Linked DNA regions of Homo sapiens. The protein of the gene in region 1 interacts with the protein of each later gene in a pairwise test. Each region holds a gene or a part of one and is shown on either strand. Other genes may lie near its edges.

The links. Proteins that work in one complex are often made in the same cells at the same time.
Region 2: the proteins of ANTXR1 (region 1) and TRIM35 interact in a two-hybrid assay, tested with the Homo sapiens proteins (one study listed by BioGRID).
Region 3: the proteins of ANTXR1 (region 1) and RNF182 interact in a two-hybrid assay, tested with the Homo sapiens proteins (one study listed by BioGRID).

What each region holds. Positions count from the first base shown.
Region 1 is NC_000002.12:69,015,768-69,023,357, reverse strand, and holds part of ANTXR1 (anthrax toxin receptor 1 isoform 1 precursor), read right to left. Parts: intron 1-7,590. UniProt on the Homo sapiens protein: Plays a role in cell attachment and migration. Interacts with extracellular matrix proteins and with the actin cytoskeleton and thereby plays an important role in normal extracellular matrix (ECM) homeostasis.
Region 2 is NC_000008.11:27,287,206-27,294,795, forward strand, and holds part of TRIM35 (E3 ubiquitin-protein ligase TRIM35), read right to left. Parts: intron 7,106-7,590; coding exon 6,875-7,105; intron 2,974-6,874; coding exon 2,951-2,973; intron 2,076-2,950; coding exon 1,957-2,075; intron 923-1,956; coding exon 345-922; 3' UTR 1-344. UniProt on the Homo sapiens protein: E3 ubiquitin-protein ligase that participates in multiple biological processes including cell death, glucose metabolism, and in particular, the innate immune response.
Region 3 is NC_000006.12:13,919,556-13,928,018, reverse strand, and holds the start of RNF182 (E3 ubiquitin-protein ligase RNF182), read right to left. Parts: upstream 3,068-8,463; 5' UTR 2,996-3,067; intron 2,915-2,995; exon of another isoform or gene 2,653-2,914; intron 1-2,652. UniProt on the Homo sapiens protein: E3 ubiquitin-protein ligase that mediates the ubiquitination of ATP6V0C and targets it to degradation via the ubiquitin-proteasome pathway.

The DNA.
Region 1 (7,590 bases):
TTGCCATAATCACCACTATCACTGTCACCATCACCACTACCATCACCATCATCTTTATCATCACGTCCACCTCCACCACCATAACCATCACCATCACCATCTATCGTCTCAGCACTCATGTGCCAAATGGTTAATTAAAGGTTTTAATCTTTACAACACTTTTGTGAGGCAGACATTTTAATGCCTATTTTATTAACAATACTGAAGTTCGGAGAGGCTAAATAATTTGCCCAAGGTCACAATGCTTGCTGAAGCATTGAGCTGATATTTAAAGCTGCAGATGCCTGATTCCGAAGGTGGCCTTCTTAAGCCCTGTGTTAAGCATTCCCATGAGGCACATTTCATGTAGGGAGACTTATGAGAAAGGAAGCAAAGGAGTGTCCTGGCTAGTAAACAACATGGCTTAAATGTATATGTACACACAGCAGGACCTGGCAACACTGAAGGGCAAAACATGGCCTCTCAGTGACCTTTGCTCTTCTGCCTTCATATTGTGTGTGGTTTCTTCTGCCACCATCTAAAATAAGAGCTCTGCCTATAGCCCAGCTCCAAGGTGTGTGCTGCCTCAGCTATATCCTCATCATAAGGCCATAACCATGAGCCATCATTATGGGGCAACTTTTCTTGTCTTCCTGTTCAGTCTTATGACTCACTGAGGGAGGGACCTGAATCAGAATCACCTGGGAAGCTTTTCCAAAATACACGTCTGCCTCAGGCCTCTGAAGTTGTGATCTGGCCCTTGGTTGAGAACCTCAGTTTAGCATATTCATTCCCAAGGTCTACAATTTCCACTGGAGCTTTTATCATGGAAGCTTCCCAATTTCTTCCTTCAGACAAATGCCCAGATGTGGTTCTTGGATGCTAGGAATCAACATCAATGGCATACCCTGCTCTGCCCTGCCTTCTTTTAGTCAGGAGTTCTCAACCAAGGTGGTACCAACCTTAGAAATAAGTATAGAGGCTGTTATTTATTGGTCATCACAATGACCAGAAAGGCTAATGGTATTTAGAAAGCAAGGATGAGGAATGCTAAAGCATCCCACAGTCCATCACAATGAAACACCGTCCCATCAAAAATGCTAACAGCACCCTCATTGAGAAGCACTAGTAGGAGCCCAGATACTCTTGATTCAAACTCAGAATCAGCCCCTGCAGTGTACAGGCATCCTCTGAGCTCTGCTGCTGCAGTGGTCTGTGTTCCATGGGCTGCTGTCTTTCCCCAGCCTTTCAAATTCCCTCGTATTCCATAAACTATGGAAAAAGAGAGTTTTATCTTTCAAATATATTCATGTAATACTTAGGTGGCAGGAGAGCATGTCTAATCTCCATTTCTACTTTCCATTTAATCTAATTTAATCCCCCGCCCACCTCACTGAATATTTCATCTAAAGTATGCAGAGAATGGGGAAGGGAGGAAAAGAGAAGGAGCTATCATTGCCTCTTGGGCATATTTGAAACATCACGTCTGACAGTAATTCTAGGTTGATGAATGCTGTATATCCAAGACTTGGCTCAAAACTGACCTTTCTCCAGAAGTCTTATCTCTTTATTCTCTCTCAATGGCTACTTCTTTCTTGCTTATTCAAGCCAAAGCAAGCTATAATTATACGTTTTCAGTAGAAGCTTTTATTGTCCACCCATATCTGGCTTTCCCTTCCATCTAGGCACATGGAGGATTATTCTTCAAGTCTTTTTCCATAAAGTGAGGCTATCTGACCAGTTCTGACCAACAGGCTGTGAGGAGAAGGATGCACGTCACTTCTGGCTGGAGCATTTCATGGCCAGCAAGACATCATCTAGCATTCTCTTCCCTCGCAGCCTTGATGGTGGCAGGAGGTATCAGGAAGGAATCTCCACCAGCCTGGCTCCCAGAACCATCACCATAAGAAGAGCCCTGCTGACTCCTATCAGACATGTAGTATATGCAGAGAATAAAACTTTTGTTGTTTTGTGTAACTGAGATTCGGGGGTTATTTGTTATCACAGCATAACCTGACCTACCTTGATTGATTCAATGTTCTTTTGCATATTTAGATTCTTTTTAACTTTGTGCATAGATTATGAGTCAGAGGGGCTTGGGTTTGAGACTTAGTTTCACCATTCAGAGTGACCTTGGGTAACCTCTCTAAACCTCGGTCTCCTCACGTGTGAAATGGTAATGATGACTGTACAGACCTTATGGGGGTTGTAAACACTAAACAGGGTCATACAGGCAAAGTGTTTACTATAGCGTCTGGCAGGTAGCAAGGGTTCAGTAAATGTTACTTCTTATTTCTTACTGATCTAAAATTGACTTTACTTGGCCCCTTTCCCAAATCCTCACTGAAGCCTTTAGCTCTGGCTGCCTAGAGTCCTCTAACTTTTCTCCATAAAAACCTGACAGCCTGGGACTTCTTCCTGTTTATTTTGCATTCCTTTTACCTCCCATAGCAGGACATTGCTTGCAATAGGCATTGTTTCATCCACGCATGTATTGGAGTACACACTTGTGATCAAAACTGAGTATGTCATCTATGCCAAATGAATGGAAGAATCTGCTGAGTCAAATTGGAGAAATCTAATTACTTTTTCAGTATGAACCTGACGTGTCTGAAAAACGTGTCAACAAATGTTTAAATATTCTCTTTGTCTTTTATTGCAGAGTAATCAGGGGGAGAGGCAAGATCCAGTCTCTTGGCCGCATACCAAACATAGACACACATTCTAAATTAGCATAGAGCAAATCCCATTTGCATTTATGTGACAGCCAAGTCTCCCTAATTGATCCCAGAATTTGTTTCTGGACCACTAGGAATCCTTTAGCATTTGGACATAATTACAGGTTATCTTGGGACAGGTGCCTTCCTCCAACACTCCTTGACACTGAGTTTAACCAGGTCTCCACAGCTAAATAAAGTAGAGGTAGTTACTTGGCTGACCCAGACAGAAACACAAAACAAAACAAAACAAAACAAAACAAAACAGTTTTGCCTTATTTATTTTTATTTTTGACCCATATGCCAAACTATCCAATTTGCAGGCAGTTCTACCAACTCTTGCCTGGCCTCAAAGGCCTTCTCCAAATGTGGAACTTAATTAGAGGAGCATTTAAAACCAAGCATTAAGTCCACCTCAATACAAAAATAATAATAATAAAAGAAATTCCTGGCCCCTGATAACTATTTTTCTGATGCCCTTTAAAATTATTATTGTAAAAGATAGTGTGGCAATTCCTCAAAGACCTAAAGACAGAAATACCATTCGACCCACCAATCACTTTACTGAGAATATACCCAAAGGAATATAAATTGTTCTATTATAAAGATACATGCATGCATATGTTCACTGCAGCACTATTCACAATAGCAAAGACATGAAATCAACCTAAATGCACATCAATGATAAATTAGACAAAGCAAATGTGGTATATATACACCATGGCATTTTATGTAGCTATAAAAAAGGAGATGATGTTCTTTGCAGGAACATGGGTGGAGCTGGAGGCTGTTATCCTTAGAAAACTAATGCACAAACAGAAAACCAAATACCGCATGTTCTCACTTGTTAAGTGGGAGCTAAACAATGAGAACACATGGACACATAGAGGGGAACAACAGACACTGGGGCCTGTCGGAGGGTGGAAGGTGACAGGAGGGAGAGGATCAGGAAAAATAACTAATGGGTACTAGGCTTGATACCTCGGTGATGAAATAATCTGTACAACAAAACTCCATGACACATTCTTATGTAATTTCTTTTTTTTAACATCTTTTATTTTAAGTTCAGGGGTACATATGCAGGATGCGCAGGTTTGTATGTACCCCTGAACTTAAAAGTTGAAAAAAAGAAATTAGAGTATGAAATGAGAAAAGAGGAGATAAAATTGTTATTTGCAGGTTATATAATTATATATCCAGAAAACCCAAGAGAATCAACTAGGAAATTATTTGAAACAGTAAAATAATTCACAACAAAATCAACACAGATACTTATACTCTTTATATGTCTAAGAGCAAACAAGTTAAAATGGAAGAAAATTTCCCATTACAATAACCAAAATGATCAAATACTTAGGAATGAAATTAACAATAAATATACAAGACTTATACGAATTAAAATCCAAAAATATAAAAAATATCTGATTGTAGCACCTTCAAGGTGCCTTCTATTGAACTCTTTGCTTTCCTTATTCAGAGCCAATTTTGCAGACACTAAGCCATCTTCCAATGTATTTCTGAAAATAAGCTACATCTGTGTGTTTTAGCATATTTACAGACTTCAGTTTCCTTTTTCTATCAGATTCAGTCTGAACAAATTACGAATTTATCATAATAAAATGTCCTGAACACACCTTAAAGTCTGACTCATCAATTAACCCCCTAGATCTCTGGAGCATTTCTCTGGGTTGCAGGGGGTTGGAGTTCCTGATACTTTCCATCAACTACAGCTGATTTAACAGCAGAGTAGTAGCTCCTCAATTAAGTAACTTTAATCGCCTTATGCACCATGATTTACTGAAACTCTGATGCGGGGATTTTGAATTCCTGGAATCTACCCAGTTCCTCTAGTTGTATTGCCATGTGCTTCTCATTATGGCCCAACTCTACAGGGAAGATGAGTGGAAAGAGCTGGTCTGGGAGTCAAGGGCAGACACTGTCCTAGCTCTGTCGTGATCTAATCCTAGGTCCTTGGGCAAGTCACTTAACCCAGTGGACTGAACAAAGGTTTTCTTATCTTCAAATTAGGGACAGTCATGCTTCGCCCTACCTACCAAACAAGGTTGTCTTTGGGACCCTTGTGAGAGAGCATGAGTCTGCAAGACTCACACAAGTTCCCAATCCAGTATTTCTTTTGTAAGTTAGTAGTTGGGAACTCAGAAGATATTTTCCCAGAAAAAAGCCAGTACTATACCTGATGGGGAAATTTCCAGCCTAATGCTACAAAAATCTATCTGATGATCCTGTCCCTGGAGTACAACACATAACAGTGGTCCTGCAAATCAGCACCAGCAGGGCATCATCCAGGTGTGGGTGCTGTGGTTGGAACTCTGGGGGAGTGGCAACATGGAATCCCTTTGTACAGTGGAAGAAAAAGAAAACTGGTGCCGAACAGAAGGGAAATGGCAGGGGGAGTCGGAGGTCTTACGGGGAAGGAGCACATGGTGAGCCTGTGGGGGGCCTTTAGACATATAAGGATTTATTAGGTGCAGAAAATGAATGACAGGCTGTGGCTTTGGCAAGTCCTATAAATAAAGCTGCTCAGCGTTTACTCCTGCCTTCCAGACCACCATCTCCACTCCTCCTGCTCTCTTTCCCACATTCTATTTTTGAAGTCTTCAGGGCACACATAACATAGCCAGCCACTTGAGATTCATGATGCAGAATCCACTATCTCCATTCAAGTGACTAATAGCTCCATGTAAAATAGTCCAATATGTAATACATAAACATATACGTAATAAGAGAGGGTGGGGGGGTGCTGTGAGAGAGGGAAGGTAGTTATGTCTGTGGGTTGGTCAAATGGGTGCATTCATCTTGGAAGATCCCCTGGAAGACTTAAAAGAGGCTAGCTGTTTCTTTGCTTTTTGTTGAACAGAGCCTTCCAAATCTAACTTTTCAAATCCCCGACTGAATTCCCAGCAATCTATTTTTCCTGACTATAACCAGAAAAGCATGTTTAAGTGAACATGAAATTCCATCAGTATAAAGCCTTGTGCAGCCCAGTCCACCAGCCCAGTCGCCAAAGCCACTAATAATGCCCTATTGTGTTACTGTGGTATTTTCTAGGTTATCATTATGAAGTCTTTGCTCCTGGTTGAGAAAACATGACGTTCCATTAAATGTATAATCTGGGTTCCCTCCAGGCCAGAGATGCAGCTTGCTTAAAGCTGAAATGAGCTGAGATTTAATGTCATGGGAAAAGAGAACCAGTTGCAGGGGAAGAAGGAGTTGCAGGGATTGGGAGAAGAATGGTGGATTCAGTCCCCTATGATCCCTCGGTTTCAGACTGTAGACAGTGTCTTGCCAGCGAAAGGATCTAAGAAGCCCAAGGAAAAAATGAGTCAGCATTTTTTCACTTTCCACTCTGGCTGTGGTTGGGTGCTGGACAGCACTGTGTGAGGAGGTTCTCTCTAGGACAGAAGATCATGTCTTTAGCGACCACCCAGGGGTCTGTTTGCCACCACTGCGTTTTGGCCCATCCCCTAGCTCTGGACTCATCAATCTCATAAATTAGCCTGGATGGAGGTGGTAAGCTGGTGGAGTGTGCACTACCGCACCAAGTTCTAGCAAGTTTTTCATTCAGCACAAAAATATCCTTCTCTTCCAGCAACAGAACAGCTAAAGGAAGTCAGAGGCATCCACCTGAATGTCTGTAAAGGTCTCCCCACCATTTCTTTTCCTGGAGCATTTTTGGGTCTCCAATGTGCTTCATAGAATCCTATGATGCACTCAGACATTTACTCCAGGATTAAATATAAAAGCAGCAGCATCCTTTACAACAGCAAGGGGCTTGGAAGTGAGCACACTGTTTAGAGACCCACTTGACATGATTTTCAAAACAAATTCAAAATAACTTATTTTTGTTGAATATAAAAGTAATGTATGTTCAGTACAGAAAAATTAAGAAAAACATGTAAACAAAATTTAAAATTCTACCTGCTAGAGACAAATAGTAGTACCATATTGGTAAATAGAGACATACACATGTGTGTGTTTAACTTTTTAAACAGGTGGAATCATAACGCAGATGACGTTTGGTAATTGCATTTCCATCTAAAAGTGTATAGTATGTTAAGAATTATGTATTTCTCCTAAAATAGCTTACAAGCTTGTATAACATGCAATGCAGGTTCAATACTATACACATATCATACCTTAGTAAATCCACTGCTGTTAGACACATGTAATCCTCAGCTTTTTATTATAAACAGCACCTCCATAAACATACATGTAGGTACTTCTTTGTGACTATTTGGATTTTTTTTCTTTAGGACATGAAATTGCTCGATGGAAAGGAACACCCCTCATTTTTTAAAAGCATTTTATATGTGTCGCCAAATTATCTTCTTGTCTGCACTATCCGGTATGGTAGCCACATGTGGCTATTAAAGTTCAAATTAGTTAAACTTATATAAAATTAAAAATTCACTTCCTCAATCGCACTAACTACATTTCAAGTGCTCGAGTCACATATGGCTAGTAGCTACTGTATTGAACTGCACAGATATAGAACTTTTCTACCGACCTAGAAAGTTCTACTGGACAGCGCAAGTCTAGAAAGACTGCACCAATTTACATTTTCCCTAGTAAGAAATGACAGTGCCTATCTCCCACAAATTGGCCAATACTGAATATTGTAATTTTTAAAAAAGTTTTTGCCAACCTAATAAAAATCATATTGTTTGATTTTTTCATTTCTTTGATTAATAACGACCTTTTTAGTTCATTTATTGACTCATATTTTTTTCTCTTGTGAATTATGCACTTAGGCTATTTCCTATTGGGATTTTGCTTTTACTGCTTTTTATATATGAAAATCAATCTTAAGAGAGTGATTTATGTGGCAATAGTTATTGTAACTTCTTATGTTTTTTCATGGCTTATTTTTCAT
Region 2 (7,590 bases), on another chromosome or scaffold:
ACCACACCTCGATGAGATGGTTTACAACAGGCCCATTCTAGAAGTAAACATTATTCCCAGAAATCCTGGAATAGGGATTCAGAAAATTCACATTGTGGAGGTGCCACGACTCGGGAGAGCCTGGCCAGCGAGGTGCCACCCGAATAGCTCCTGACCATGGGCACAGAAGGGACCAAACATGGAGAGAGGCACAGCCTGGAGTCATGGAAAAGGACCAGGCAGGACAGGAGGAAGAGCCTGGCAAGGAGGCAGGGGCGCAATAGTGCCCAAGCAGTGTGGGCATTAGGAAGAGGGCAGAAAGAAAACAGTGCTGTGGCACAAGACCGGGGCAGCCCCGGGCCAGCTCAGCCATCCAGTTCTTCCTTGACACTGATGTGCAAGGGGCAGATGCGCAAAGGCTCTGGAGGCCCGGCGCCCCGTGCACCCCCCAGGTAGAAGTAGGGGCGAACCTCCCCAAAGCGGGCGTGGAAGGTGTACAGGTGGCAGTGGCGCTCCGCGTCATAGAAAGACAGCTCGCCCTCCTCACACTCCAGCTCCACACGCAGGCGGCGTGGGATGGCCAGGACCAGGGGCGACGTGGCTGGGTCCGAGGTCACGCAGTGGTCCCCCTCCACGCCCTGCGTGCGGCAGACATACCAGAAGCCCGAGCGTGTGTCGTGGTAGCAGCTGTGTGAGTGGCCCTCAGCGCCCGAGTCCTGGCGCACACGTACCACGCCCACCCTCCAGCTCTGCAGCCCCCCAAGGGCCACCTCCCAGGCGTGCGAGCCCTGTGAGAAGACACGGGAGCCCAGCAGGCAGGGCGCCGAGGAGAAGCGTTCCGGGTTCTCCACCTGCACGCGGTAGCCATGGTTGGTGACGCTGGTGAGGTCGTCAGACACGGAGAGCCAGCCAGCTGCGGTGTTGGGGTCAAAGCTGAAGGGTACTGCAAGCAGAGGCGGAAATGGGGAATCAGCAAACCTGAGGTCCCTTAGGCCACACGTGGATATCTCCAGCCCCACAAACCAACCACTGTGTCACACCTGGCCCCAAGTCCATGCAAGGAGTGGCCCAGGGCTGGAGTGGTGGCAGGGGTTGGGCTGTATCCCCCAGAAGATATGCGGCAGTCCCAACCCCTGGTACCTCCGAGTGTGACCTTATTTGGGAATGGGGTGGTTGTACACATATTAGTTAAGATGAAGACTGGAGGAGGGTCCCCAATCCAATATGACCTGTGTCCTTAAAATAAAGAGGAGACAGACACAGATACACAGGGGAGAATGCTGTGTGATGGCGGAGGTGAGGATCAAAGTGCTGAGGGGGAGCCAATAAGGCCAAGAATGGCCAGGAGACACCAGGAGACGGAAGAGGAAATGAAGACTCTCCTCTACAGGTTTCAGAGGGGGCCTGGTCCTTCCAACATCTGGATTTTGGATTTCTACCCTCCAGAACTGTGAGAGAGTCAACTTCTGTCATTTTCTAGTTTGTGGTCCTTCGTTATGGCAGCCACAGGAACTCATACAGGCAGAGACTCTTAACACTCACACGACCAAGGGATGTTAGGACAGCACGGCCCATTCCCTGAGTCAGTGATATTCCTCCCCGTAAAACCAGGACACTGTGGCTCATGTGGGCTGCAGTCGCCTTAGGAGAGGCAAGCCCAGATGCAGGAGGTCTTTTATCATACAAAACACAGTTCTGAATAGGCAAGAAAGCCAGTTTCCCTCTCTGAAGAAGGGACCAAGTGTCAGGACCCTGAGAGAAGGCATTCTACCAGGAGGGTTGGAGGTGTTGGGCAGAGTGGAAAAGACCAGGGTACAGGAACCTGCCTGCGAGGGACTGGCAGAGGGATCAGCTGAGAGAGGAGGGGAGCTCTGAGGAGGTGGGAGGTGGGCCCGGCAGAGACCAGCCCTGGTGCCTCTTTGCTAACATGAAGGGCTTCCACCCATGCTTGGGACACCTGCCGGCACCCCCGCTCACCAGATTCCACAGATGCAAGCATCTTCTTCCAGACGCGGTACTGCAGGGAGCCCAGGTACTTGCAGACATCGATAAGCATGCCGGGCTGGACTGGCTCTGGCTCCATGGTGCAGAAGAGTCTGGAAAAGTACAATGGGTATGGTGGGCAGGGCCAGAGCCATGCAACCTGGGCCGAACTGGGCCAACTGGAAACCAGCAACAGGACTTGTTCCCTTCCCTCAGGCCCAAGTTTCCTGGCCACCTTCTCCAAGACAAGACTGGACTGGGCTACGATGGGAGATGGGCCAAGGCCAACAGGGCTGCCATCTCCCTTCAGCATTCAATCCGAGGGCTCACCCTGCCCCAACTAGGAGAAATACAAACAGGAGGTTCTCCAACATGGCTGCCATCCTTGCAGGCAGAAATCACACTTACACATCCGGCTCATGGGATGTCTGAGTTGGAAGGGACCCTAAGGATGCTCTAGTCCAACAATCCCAAGGTGTCCTCCAGCCTTTGCTTGCACACTGCCAGTGGGAAGTGAGCACAGGGAACTCACTCCCTCCAAAAGCACTCTATTCCATCTTTGCACAGCTCTGACTGGGACACAGCTCTTCCTCATTCATCCCTGTGAACCCAACAACCATCAACACAAACCACCATGGCCTAAGGCTCTCAGAGGGAGGGGGCTGATCAAGAAACAAGCCTGACATTGACTGGCCCCGAGAAATGCAAGCCACATGCAGGATAGTGTTCTCCTTCCCTGCACGGCAGGTGGGGACCCTCCACACTCAGGAGAACAACACTGCCCCAGAGCCAACTTGAACTGGATGCTGTGAGAGGGCTCTCTCCACCTGGCCATTGTCCACCTCTCCCTCTAAAACCAGGGCCAGTAGCTCATGTGTGCTGGTGCACCCAGCTGGTTGTTACCTGCTTGCCCCGGGGCCACTGGAGTTTGCACCCCTGGTATTTCTGCCCACTCTTCCCCTCCCCTCCACCAGCTTTGGCAACTTACCGGCGTTTTCGGCTCTTGTGTTTCTGAAAAAATAAAAATAAAAAAATAACACAGAGACACAGATGTAGAGGAAATGTATATGTTTCTGACCTCAAAAGAAGTCATGCATTCCATGGATCATAAGTCTTAATATTGTCAAGATGTTAACAATAACATCCCTGCTATGATTTGAACATATTATCCAAAAGTTCATGTGTTGAACACTGAATCCCCAATGCGACAGTGTTGGGAGGAAAGGCCTAAAAAGAGGTGATTGGGTCATGAGGGCAGAGCCCTCACAAATGGATTAATACCGTTATTGTGAAGTGGTTTAGTTGTCATGAGACTGGGTTGCTATAAAGCAATGAGCAACTACTCTGTCTTGCACTCATTTCCTCCTTCTGCCATGAGATGACCCACACCAAATGCCAGAGCCATCATGCTCCTGGACTTCCTGGCCTCACCCAGAACACTGAGCTGAATAAACTTGTATTGTTTTATAATTTACCCAGTCTGTGATATTCTGTCATAGCAACAGAAAACATAAGAAGAGACTCCTTAAGTTGATCTACTGATTCAGTGCAATCCCTTATCCTAGCTGGCTTCTTTGCAGAAACTAAAAAACTGATCCTAAAATTCACACAAAATTTCAAGGAACCCAGAATAGCCAAAACCATCTTGAAAAAGAAGAACATTGGAAGACTCATAATCTCCAATTTCAAGACTTACTACAAATCAACAGTAATCAAGATAGTATGGTACTAATATAAAAACAGGCACTGAGATCAATGGAATAGAATTGAAAGTCCAGAAATAAACCCTCATATTTACCATCAATCAATTATTTACAATAGTGCCAAGATGATTTAATGGAGGAATAGTCTTTCCAACAAATGGTACTGGGAAAACTGTATGTTGACATGCAAAAAAAAAAAAAAAAAAAAAGTGAAGTTGGACTAACCCTTACTATACCATATACAAAAAAAAAACTCAAAATGCATCAAAGACCTACATGAAGAGCTAAAACCGATAAAAAACTTGTATCTAGACTATATAAAGAACTCTTACAACTCAACAATAAAAAGACAACCCACATTAAAAATGGGCAAAGGATGTGAATAGACATTTGTCCAAGGAAGATCTACTAATGATCAAAAAGCCCATGAAAAGATGTTCCAAGTCATTAGCCATCAGGGATGTGATGACATGCAATACACAAGGAGATACCACTTCACACCTACAAGGATGGTTATAATTTTTAAAAAACAAATTTTGGCAAAAATATGGAGAAACTGGAATCCACATACACTCCTGATGGGAATATAAAATGATACAGTTGCTCTGAATAATGGCCTAGCAGTTCTTCCAATAGTTAAACCTAGAGTTACCATTTGATCCAGCAAATCTACTCCCAGACATATTTCCAAGAAAAATGAAAACATGTCCACATAAAAATTGCTACCTGAATGTTTATAGTCATATTATTCATAATAGCCAAAATAGAAACAACCCAAATGACCACTGTCTTAGTTCATTTTGTGTTGCTGTAACAAAATACCACAGACTGGGTAATTTATAAACAATAGTTTATTTCACTCGTGGTTCTGAAGCTGGAAAGTCCAAGAGCATGGCACCAGCATCTGATGAGAGCCCTCATGCTGTGTCATCCCATGGCAGAAGGAAGAAGGGCAAGAGACTACACATAAGACCAAGAGCAAGAGAGCAAGAGGGGCCCAAACTCACTTTTATAACAAGCCCACTCTCTCAATAACTAACCCACTCTGCCAGTAACAACATTAACCCATTCATGAGGGCTCTCATGACCCAATCACTTCTTATTAGGCTCCACCACCCAACACTGTTGCATTGGGGATTAAGTTTGTAACACATAAATTTTGGGGAACATATTTAAACCACAGCAACCACCAATTGATAAATCAATCAATAAAATATAATATAGCCATGTGCAACGTAACGATGTTTCAGTCAACAAGGAACCACATATATGACTATGGTATGGTCCCATGAGATTATATCACTGTTTTTTACTGTACTTTTTCTATGTTTAGATATACAAATACTTAACAGTGGGCTCCAGTTGCCTACAGTATTCAGTGCAGCAACGTGCTGTACAGGTTTGTAGCCTAGGAGCAAAAGGCTATTCCATATAATCTAGGTGTGCAGTAGGCTACACCATGTAGGCTTCTGTAAGCACACTCCATGACACTTGCATAATGAAGAAACTGCCTAATAATACATTTCTCAGAACATATCCCCATCACTAAGAAGTGCATGATTATATATCTATGCCATGGAATATTATTCAGCCATAAAAAAGAATGAAGTACTGATAGATGCTACAACATGAATGATGTTTCAAAATATGCTGACTGAAAGAAGGCAGTCACAAAAGGTTACATGTTATATAATTCCATGCATTTGAAATGTCTACAACAGGTAAATCCATATAGATAGTATGTAGACTAGTGGTTGCCAGGGGCTGCTAATTCTAGTAATTACCACTCTGTTAGACTCAATTTCGGTAGCAGTTTTTATGTGGGAGGAGGAACTGGGGAGTGACAGCTAAAGCAGGGCTGCTTTTGGAGGCATGAAATGTTCTAAAATTGTCGTGATGGTTGCACAACTCTGTATATACTAAAAATCACTGAGTGGTACATTTTAAATGGGTGAATTGTTTAGCATGTAAATTATATCTCAATAAAGTTGTTAATAAAAAATAAAAAAGAGTCACAAACCAAAATCATCCCTGAAAGCACTCTGAGTACTGGGCAGACAATACTCCCAATTCCCTAAACAGAATCCTCGAGACACACAGCTTTTAGATCCCACAAAATGATTTTTCTTTTTCTTTTTTTTTTTTCTTCATTTTTCTTTTTAGAGACAGCTCTGAACACAGAATGATTTCATAATCAGGGACATTTTTGAGACAGGAGACTTCATGGTTCCAGGCTTTGAGTGAGGTGGAGAACTCCTAAAGGACCCACCCAGGAGATGACACTGCCTGAACAGATAACTGTCCCTGTCGCCTCCCACTCCACTCTACAGCGACACCCCTTCCACAGCAGTCAGCTGTTTTCCAGGTACAAGAGACACCTCACCACCCTGGCCAGTTTACAGACCAGCTTTCGAGCCCAGAAATTTCCCTGTAGGAAATTTGTAAGGACCACTGGCTCATGGGGAGGAAATAAATCAATAAAAGGAAAAAAAAATGAATAATACTGTTTTTTTAAAGAGAGAATGGAATCATCCTTTTCTTAAGAAGACAGAAAGCCAAGGCATTATATTTAAATAAAAAATTTAAATAATTGAATGATTTTAAAAGAATTCATCTTATTAAAAGGTAGAGACCGGAAAAAAAATGAGAGTAAGAGAGAGGGCAAGAGAAAGGAAGAAAGAAGAGACAGGAGCTGGGCACAGTGGTGCGCCAGTAGTCCAACTACCTGGGAGGCCAAGGTGGAAGCATCACTTGAGGCCAGGGATTCAAGACCAGCTTGGGCAACATAGTGAGACCCCCCTCACCCCTACCTGACTGGTAAAAAATGAAAAAAATTAGTTGGGCATGGTGGCTCGTGCCTGTAGTCCCAGCTACTCAGGAGGCTAAGGAGAGAGGATCACTTGAGCCCATGAGTTTGAGGTTACACTGAGCTATAATCACCCACTGTACTCCAGCCTGGGTGATACAGCAAGACCCTGTCTCTAAAAAAAAGAAGAGCGAGGAAGAAATAACAGGGTTTCAAGGAACTCCGCCCTGATAAGTCTTTTTAGTTTCATGACACAAGCAGAGCAGGTTACTTGTGAGCTCCTCCAGGCCAGTACCCAGGAAGCTCCAGGAAGATGACGTTGGCCAGGGCTGGTGGGCTATGGCTCCCAGCTGGTCCTGGAACATGTGGCCCTGTCACTGAATCCAGACGCTGAGCTCCTTACCATGAGAAAAGAAACGTCGTCCTCCTTCATCTCCATCTGCAGCCGCTCGATCTCATGTGCCAGCACCTCCGTCTCCTCTGTGAGCTGCTTCATCTTCTCGTCGGCCAGAAGTTGCTTCTGCCTTGTCTCCTCGGCCATGGCATCCAGAATGGCCTGCTCCTCCACTCTCAAGAACTCGCGAAGCTTATCAAACTCCTGCCGGATCCGGCCTTCCAGCCATGCAGCCTCCACCTACGGAAGACAGCAGGAGGAGTCAGGGGTCAGATGTGGAGAGGACATCCATAGCCCAGCAACTTTCCCATTTTTAGCAAAGGAAATTTATGTTCAAATAAATCATGTATAGAACCCCTACAGATAAAATATCAACATAATAGTTTATAAGCACAAATTTCTAAGTTCCGATTTCAAATGGGAAAGTCCAACAACCTAATATTAGATTGTTTTGACAGGGTTTTTAAAAATAAAATCACAGCTTATATAGATGGCAACTGTAGTACTATAACCTCATCTACATACAATGTTCAGTTCCTTCTTTAGGTTGCACCATAACAAGGGAAGTCCTGAATCATAGAAATGAATGGCTGCGAATAGCAATGATTTTTTTTTAAGTATTTACCTTCCAATCTTAGGACTTAAAATTTGTCTGATCCAGAGGCTTTACCAAAAGAGCAGTAGGAAGCATTCATTTTAAAACAATCATTAAAATAATATACACA
Region 3 (8,463 bases), on another chromosome or scaffold:
TCTCCTGTGCCTTTTCTCAGCACAGTAGTTCTGACAAATACCCACTGTGCACAGCAGGTCAGTTAACAATACCTGATATTTACAGCATTTTGTCTTGAGGTCTCAGGGCCACACTATTCTCCCCAGCCACAAATCTAAATCTAAGTGTTTTGGTAATGAAGAAATCATTTAAAAACTACCATCCTTCACAAATGTGCTTTTATAAATGCTACAACACATTGCACTAGATGCTAAATTACCAACCAGTAATCATGTTATCACAGTGCAACTAGAAATTGCAAGAGAATGTTGACCCAGAAACAGTCAATAAAGGCTTCAGTGGCTTTATTTAGGCTGCCTATGCAGGCTTATATGGTTACAAACAACTGACTTTCAATGGCACAAACATAATGTTAATCCTAACTTAAACAGGAACATTTGTGGCTTTTTTTTGTCTTTGGATATGCTTCATAAACTGAATTACAGAATTCTTTCAGGTAGAATACAGCTATGGTGACAATTATCAGGCCATATTTTACAGCTTATACCAAAAATTAGGACCAATTTTACGTCATAAAATTAAAACCCGTAAGCTAAAATGCAGGAAAAGACTCCTACTCCCGTGAATCAGCAAGAGTGATGACTAGTATTTTACACCTGGGGATATGCAATGCTGTTGCCTGCTTCCACCAGGTGGCTAAACCATGGACAGAAAACACAATTGCTGTTTGCATTTTCTAAGGACATATTGCAGATATCATAGTATTTTTTCTTTCATTATCTGGTTATGCACATACCTCAGAACACTAGTAACACATATAAACATGCCAGATTATTGTTTTCCACTGCACTGACACAAGCTTCATTTCATGCTTCGGAGCTCTTATTAATAAGCCACTACAACCAAGCAGTGCATGCAATACATGATTGTTGATTTCTGTATACCGACTTTATTTTTTGGCAGAAAATGATGCAGCTCTGAAGAAGCCAAACTATATTGAATGTTGTGCCCGTGTGAGCTAGCAGCAAAGGCAAAGCACCGGTCCTTACTGTGCTAAATTCACCATGGATATCTCCGTTCTTCAGCACTCAGATTAAGGGCCACAACATAAATGTTTAGGCTAGAACTCACAGTGTGGGTTTCATCTGGCAGAAAGCACGGACCAAGTCCTTGAACTTGAATACTGGTTTTGCTAACAAAGATCTGAATAAAGCTGTTCTGTTGGTCCCTCAGGAAAAAAAAAAAAACACACACACACACACAAACACACAAAATAATTTATTTTTAGTACAAAACATAAAACTACATTCTCTGTCTATATAATGTGCCTAGGCTTCAATATCCTATTTGCTGTTCATGCTTAAGTGAGAAAATACTTTTCTCTCCCGTTTATCTTCTCAAAACAGATCTACTTCGTTTTAATCAATGTACGATTTTATTACCGTCATGAAAGAGTATTTAGCAGAGCATCTGTGAATCTTCCACAGGTAAAATTCAGTTTAAAAACAAGCCCAATTGTGAAATAACCTGCAAACTGTTAATTGCAACTTCAATCCTTTAGTTTCCAATACAATCTTCTAATGAAGTGGCATTACTTGAAGTTGCTGGCAAATATGAACAGACTGAGAAACCTAGTAATCAGCAGGCTAACAGGTGTTGAAATCCCAAAAGAGGGAAGAGGAATATTAAATAATCACTCTTTGCCTGACACCTCAAGTAGCTGTAATATGCAGAATTCCAATCAACTTAACTGCAATTCAAAATGATCAGTGGTACTGTTTTCATTAATTACTCTCTAGCAAAAATATAATTTCTTGCATTCCATATAGTTCTTTAAATGACCTATTCCAACTTATACATTATTTTACTAAGTTGGATATACAATTTTATATGTTAGATTATTTTCCAGTTATCAATATGACATCTCATATTGTTTAAATATGATTTAAAACAAATCTTATTAACATATATACAATTTCCTTCTGAATTGATCAACTGTATTTCTGAAAATGTATCTGTTTTCTTTCATATTACTACATGTAAGATGATGTCTAAGTACCAAAAAAAAAAGTCTTCACAGTCACAATTTAAATCTGTGCTTCGCGTCTGCAACAAACTATCACGAAATGATTGCAAGGGTTGGGGCCACTGAGAAAGGTACCTATAACCTATCCAGTGCCCCAGTGGCAACCGCATCGTGGTCCTCATCATCCCACTCATAAACACCGATGCAAACACCGCCCAGCTACCTGCCTCCAGAGGTGCTTTGGATTGCCTCCCTACACATAAAAACAAAAGGCACTTTCCAGTTCCTTACAGCATGAACACAATACCTTCTAGAAACAAAAGCAATGACCTCGGTGCCAAGTATCTCCTTGACAAAGTATCGGTACTGCTCTACATTCTGGTCTTGCTAGTCGGGGAAAGCCGGGCTACCCTTACCATCCAGTTATAGGTGCAACTGCACCTTCCAAAGAAAAAAAGGTCTTTCGATTCAATATCCAAACGAACTTCAGAAGCCTCCTCAAAATGCTTCAGCCACAGGCATAAAAATGGGCTCACTTTTCAGAGATTCGTAAAAATCTTTCGCTTGTCCCTCTTACTACCCTCCCAACCCCTCCTCAAAGAGAATGCCATGAAACATGAAAGTCCAAAGGTAAATACTTTCATACCTTTTTTTCCCCCAAAAGCCTCGATGGCACGCCAAGAAGGAAAATAACAACAACAACAGAGGGGCAGCTCCCTGAGCAGGTGCAGCCCGCGCGGGCGCTCCGCAGCCGCCCTCCGCCGCACAGCCCCTCAAGTTGGTGCCAGGACGGCGGCCCCCGTGGTGCCCGGAGGGAGACTCCGCGCGCGGGCCCCGGCGCCGCTCGGCCCGAAGTTTGCCGCCCCCTCTCCTCGGCGCGCTTGGGCGGCCCGGCGCCGTCCAGGACTGCGGGGCTGGCTGCTGCCCCAGCGTTGGGGAGGCCCGGCGTCCCGCCGACCCCTCCCCGGCCGCGGGCGCGATCGCCTTACCTGGCCGGCGGCGGCCCAGGGCCCGGGAGCCGCTCCGGCTGCGGCGGCGCCTGGGAGGGGAGGGAGGTTCCCGTGGAGGAGGAGCTCGCGCGAGGAGCTAGCGGGCTGGCGGGCGGGCGGCTTTGTCTCTACGGCGCTGAGCCGCCGACCCTGCGTCACCATGGCAACCGCCGGGGCCCCCCCGGCCCTTCCCCTCAGCAGTCCGGGTATTCGGAGAGGACAAGGACCCCCGATGGGCCGCCACCACCACAAACACGCCCCTCTCTCAGTCTCCCTCACAAACCGCCTGTTTCTCCCCAGCGAGAGGGGAAGGCTAAAGCGGAGCGAGCCCAGGGCCAAGTGGTATTCGCATCCTAGTAGGCACTCCTTTGCTTCCCCACACTGGACATTCCAACTCCCGTCGCACCACCATCCCCCCCACAGACACCCTCCACCACTACCACCACCACACCTTTCTCCTGTGGAGCTGTACCCTCAAAATGGAAATTCACTTAAGGGAGGAGAAAGAGCAATGCAAAGTGATAAAGTGTTGAGCAACTGGTACTCGGTTCTCCTGTTGCAACTGCCGCAGCATGCACGGAGCTGCCAAGGGACGCCGTGCCGCCTCCTCCCTCTCCCCCTCCTCCTCCTCTCTCTTTTAGCAAGCTTTGCCTCTGCTGGATGTGGTCTCACTCCACCCAACCCGTGTATCTGTCTTGTTGAGGGCTCCCGTAGGAGAGAGGGGAAAGGGGGCTTTATCTCTGATGTAAACACTGGATACACTTGTAACCTCAGAAGCTGAAACACAACTTTCAGGCTGCAGTATGGATCTCAGCTGCTGCCACACTGCGCAGCTACTGGCTGTGACCGCTAAGCATCTACCATGAGCCCTGAGTGACTCTGTGCCAAGGACTGGTCACGTACTGCAGGCCATGGCACTCAGGAGCAGAGAAAAGAAAGCTAACTTTTTCCTCTCCTGAGGAAATTCTTAGAGAGGGAGAGAAAAGTACCAGCAGACCCTTGGTCATGCTTCCTCTAAAGGACGAACTAGAGGGCAGCCTCCATGGGGGGAGTGAGTCATCCCTCCATACTGTTTTCTTGAAAGATCCGTTGCTGAATCCAAAAGCTACAGTGTCTTTCTTCAAACCCTGGGGAACATGACATTTATTTTTTGGCATTTGTGAATCACCAAAGGAATGTCAATGATTTATAATAAAATCCACGGTAGCTGATGTTTTCTGGGTTTACTACTTGAGAAGCCACAAAGCAGAACAATGTTATTGCCATTTGAAGGTACACCTATATTAACTAATGAAAAGATAAGATCTATTTCATGGTGGAAAAGGAAAACAGTTTGTTCCTCGGAGAGACTGGCCACTTTCTTGTAATGGGAATATTCTGAATGAAGTCAATAATATTCCAGATGAAGTCAAAAGACAAGGTCTTTTTGGCAGGCCATTAAGCATTTGGCAATACCTGCCAGAATTCAAAATGCACATACATTTCTCCCAGCTATCTCAATTCTAGAGATCTGTCATACAGAAACACACAAATGTGTAATGATAGATATAAAAGGATATGCATTGCAGAAGTTTTGTAATAGTAAATGTTTGAAACAACTTATATGCCCATCAATAGTGATATGGTTAAATAATGTGGCACTTCATACCATGTAATACTATGCATCCATTAATAAGAATAAAATATATAAAATTCATAGATATTGATTTCTTATTAAATGGAAAAGGGGGGCTCAGAACCGTATGTGTGGGTGATCCCATTCTGTACAAAAAAACTGGATATATAGGAACAGAACAAAAACATAGGGATAAAGGTCTATAAGAATGCCTACCTAATTGCTAGAAGTGGTAACCTGTTAACTACAAAAAAAATTGAAGGGACAGTTACCTCTTACGATGTACAATTTAGTACACATATTTGGTTTGTTTGGCTTTTTCAAATGAGCATTTATTAGTAATTTATCAATGAAGAAGCAAAAACAAAAAGCTTTAATAAATGTTTGTTGACCTGCATGCACATTACTGCCTGATCAAAAACTGAATACAGAACAGGGAGGGACCATTGACTTGGCCATCCCTGCCCTCAGCTGAAGGCTTGGAAAAGTCCACGTTGTGTCCCCACTTAGAGCATTGCTTAGTGACCTGGTCCTGCGTTATTCTGTGAGACATTCTTCCAGACATTCATTTTTCCAAAAGAGGTTTAGCTTTATCTTAAGGTCTGCTTCCATTCTGCCTCTTGGAGAAAATTAAAAGACTTGTCAGGAAACCATCTTAAAATGTGCCACCTTACTTACCAGGGGATATCATTTGAATAGGTTAAGTGGCAGCTTTTAGTCTGTTTAGCTAAACTGAAACTGAAGATACTAAAGCTTAAAAATTAATGTGTGGATACATGACTAGTCTTTCTTATTCTCACCATTTTTGAAATGAGGTTAAAATAATGAATTTGCTTTCCTAAAAAGATCTAGAGCTGCACAGTCTAATTCAGTAACTGCTAGCCACATATGAATTAGCTACTGAATTGGTATGTTCAGTAAGTGCAAAATACACACCAGATTTCAAAGACTTGGAACAATAACTTTAAAAAAATAATATCTTATTAATAATGTTTATATTGGTTACATGTTAAAATATATTTTGAATTTATTGAGTTAAATAAAAGATGTTATTAAAATCATTAACTTTTGTTCCTTTCCACTTTTTTAACATGATTATTAGAAAATTATAAATTATATATGTGACATTTTGGACAGCTCTGTTTTAGAATTAGTGTTTATAGCAAAATATCATTAAGAAATCTAAAGTTAGCTATTCTTCTTAACTTTTAGTTAAAATGTAATTACCTTATTAATGCTCCCCAACTCATAAAGATGCCACAGTATGGCAATTTCTGTTAAATAATTTCAACTTATTAGAATCCTATTATATGCAAGCATTAGCTTATGCTTTTATATTTTAGAAAGATTTTAGCACAGACACTAAAGTCAGATTACCTGGACCTGAATCTCAGCTCTGTTTATCAACTACATGACCTCAGCAAGCAATTTAATACATCTGTTCCTCAGTTTCCTTACCTATAAAATAGGGATTATAATAATACTTACCTCCTTGAGTTGTAAAAATTAGATGCTTGATTGTCTACAATGCTGAATAAATGTTAACTATTATTACTTTTATTATTATACTTTGTTGGTTCTCTCACTTTTTTTTTTTTTTTGAGACGGAGTCTCACTCTGTTGCCCAGGCTGGAGTGCAGTGGCACAATCTCCACTCACTGCAAGCTCCTCCTCCCAAGTTCACGCCATTCTCCTGCCTCAGCCTCCCGAGTAGCTGGGACTACAGGCGCCCACCACCACGTCCGGCTAATTTTTTGTATTTTTAGTAGAAATGGGATTTCACCATGTTAGCCAGGATGGTCTCAATCTCCTGACCTCATGATCTGCCCACCTCGGCCTCCCAAAGTGCTGGGATTACAGGCGTGAGCCACTGTGCCTGGCCAGCTCTCTCACTTACTCTACTAACCTTCAATTCAAGTTAGTCTATATATGTATATATAAATCTTTCATCTATATATAGAGATAAATCTCTCATTTTCCTTTAAATGGTCTGATTGGAACTGTAACTGAGTCATCAAAAGTTCATTCTTTTTACCCTTGAACTGACTATAAAGTTATCAAAATTAAAGAGATATTTTGATTCAAGTTAGTAAAATAAACCAGAAATTTCAATAACAAGATCAGCACCTATAATAATTTCATTTTGATAAATATTAAATTTTTTTGGTTTAACAAAATGCAGCAAATGTTATCAAGTGGTTTAAAGTCAATTTATTGTAGTCAAATTTCTAATATTTAAAGTAAATAATACATCCCTACTAAAGCATTTGTATAAAAATTTTCCTATTCCCTAACTTGAAATTTGTCTATTCAAATCCTTATTTTTTCCTCAATTATACGTCATAATCATAACTGGCATTTATTGCACACTGTGTCCAAGGTCACACAGTTATTTAGTAGCAGAATTACTACTCTACTAACCACTACACCCTACGGCTTCAATAAAGGGGAAAATAACATTTCTTAACCTTTACTTCTTGACACAATCAAACACTAAAAGGAAAAGCAACTATCCTAAGAAATATCTTAAAATTATTTAAGAGCTGGAGCTCAAATATCTTATCCCGCTAAGTCATGCATTTTGGAACAAGCAGAAGGAAAATGCAAGCTTCGATGTTTGCTCATTACTATCTCATTAAGCAACGGCTCCTTCAACTCCTGGCTTCTGGCCATGTTCTGACATTGTTTAATGAGGTGATACGAATACATTCAAGACACATTTAAAAATACTTGTTTATGTCTTAGATGTTATGTTAAAATACTTGTTTATGTCTTAAAATTAGTTTTCTTCATGGCTAGCTTTTGAATTTGACTGGGAAAATCCCAGGCCCAGCCATTTAGAAGGGTTGAAAAAGAAAATACATCTCAGCTGAGTCTATAGAAGCCAGAAACCCAGAACTCACAATTTCCTGTCTTCCCAATGGCCCCCCTTTAAGGCACTGGGCACATCTGCTCTAAAAGGCAAATATTGACTAAGATATGCCTGTAAGTAGAGAAAATGTACTTTTTTATACACTGCTCCTAAGTGGTTTGAACATCCTTGTTCCAAGGAGATATGTTGATCCCTTGAATTCAACAACCTGTGTCCATAGTGGGGAGTTTAAATCAAATTTGTTTCAAAGGCTCCAAGGGGTGCCCAATTACCCTTCTCAATTCCTTAATCATAGTGAATCTCTTCGAGAAATTAAAGATTCAGCCAAATGACAAGAATTCTACCCAACTTGAAATTAGTTCTGTGTATGATGCCTTGGTTTACAAAGACTATGGTCTACCCTACTGGCTTTAGCAATAAAGAAATTAAAGGACACCCAGCTTTCTTATCAATGCCAAACAGTCCCATAATTGCTTATAGAAGTGAAGGAGGCTATCTTCTCTCTTCAATCCATTCCACAAAGATAAGATAAATTTTGAAATATCCTTGCTACTAAACCAAGTATTGTGAAAAATTTTGTCAATAATTGATAGTGGTGATACATTTAACCACCAAGCTATCTGGCACATCAGTAGTTGCCACTGATTAAAGAAGTGTATCCTCTGAAAATCTTGGAAAATATAGCCAAAAGTAAATGGGATTGAGAAGCACTGTCTTATTCATCATTTCTTATGCCCTTGTGTTTATTGTATAGGTCATTTAAAAATATATATGTGTTATTAACAATGGGGAAAACGGCATGGAAACACAGAGTTAAAAAACTGTAGGTCATCGAATTTTAGCAAAAGAAAAGAAAGCAACTAATACATTGCAGTTCTCTGCCAAGAGCTCTCTACAGAGAGATCCAACATAACATCTCAACTGAAAGTATAATTTGATATTGATAAGATAAGATTAAAGTAAACTTTTTATGTACTTTAA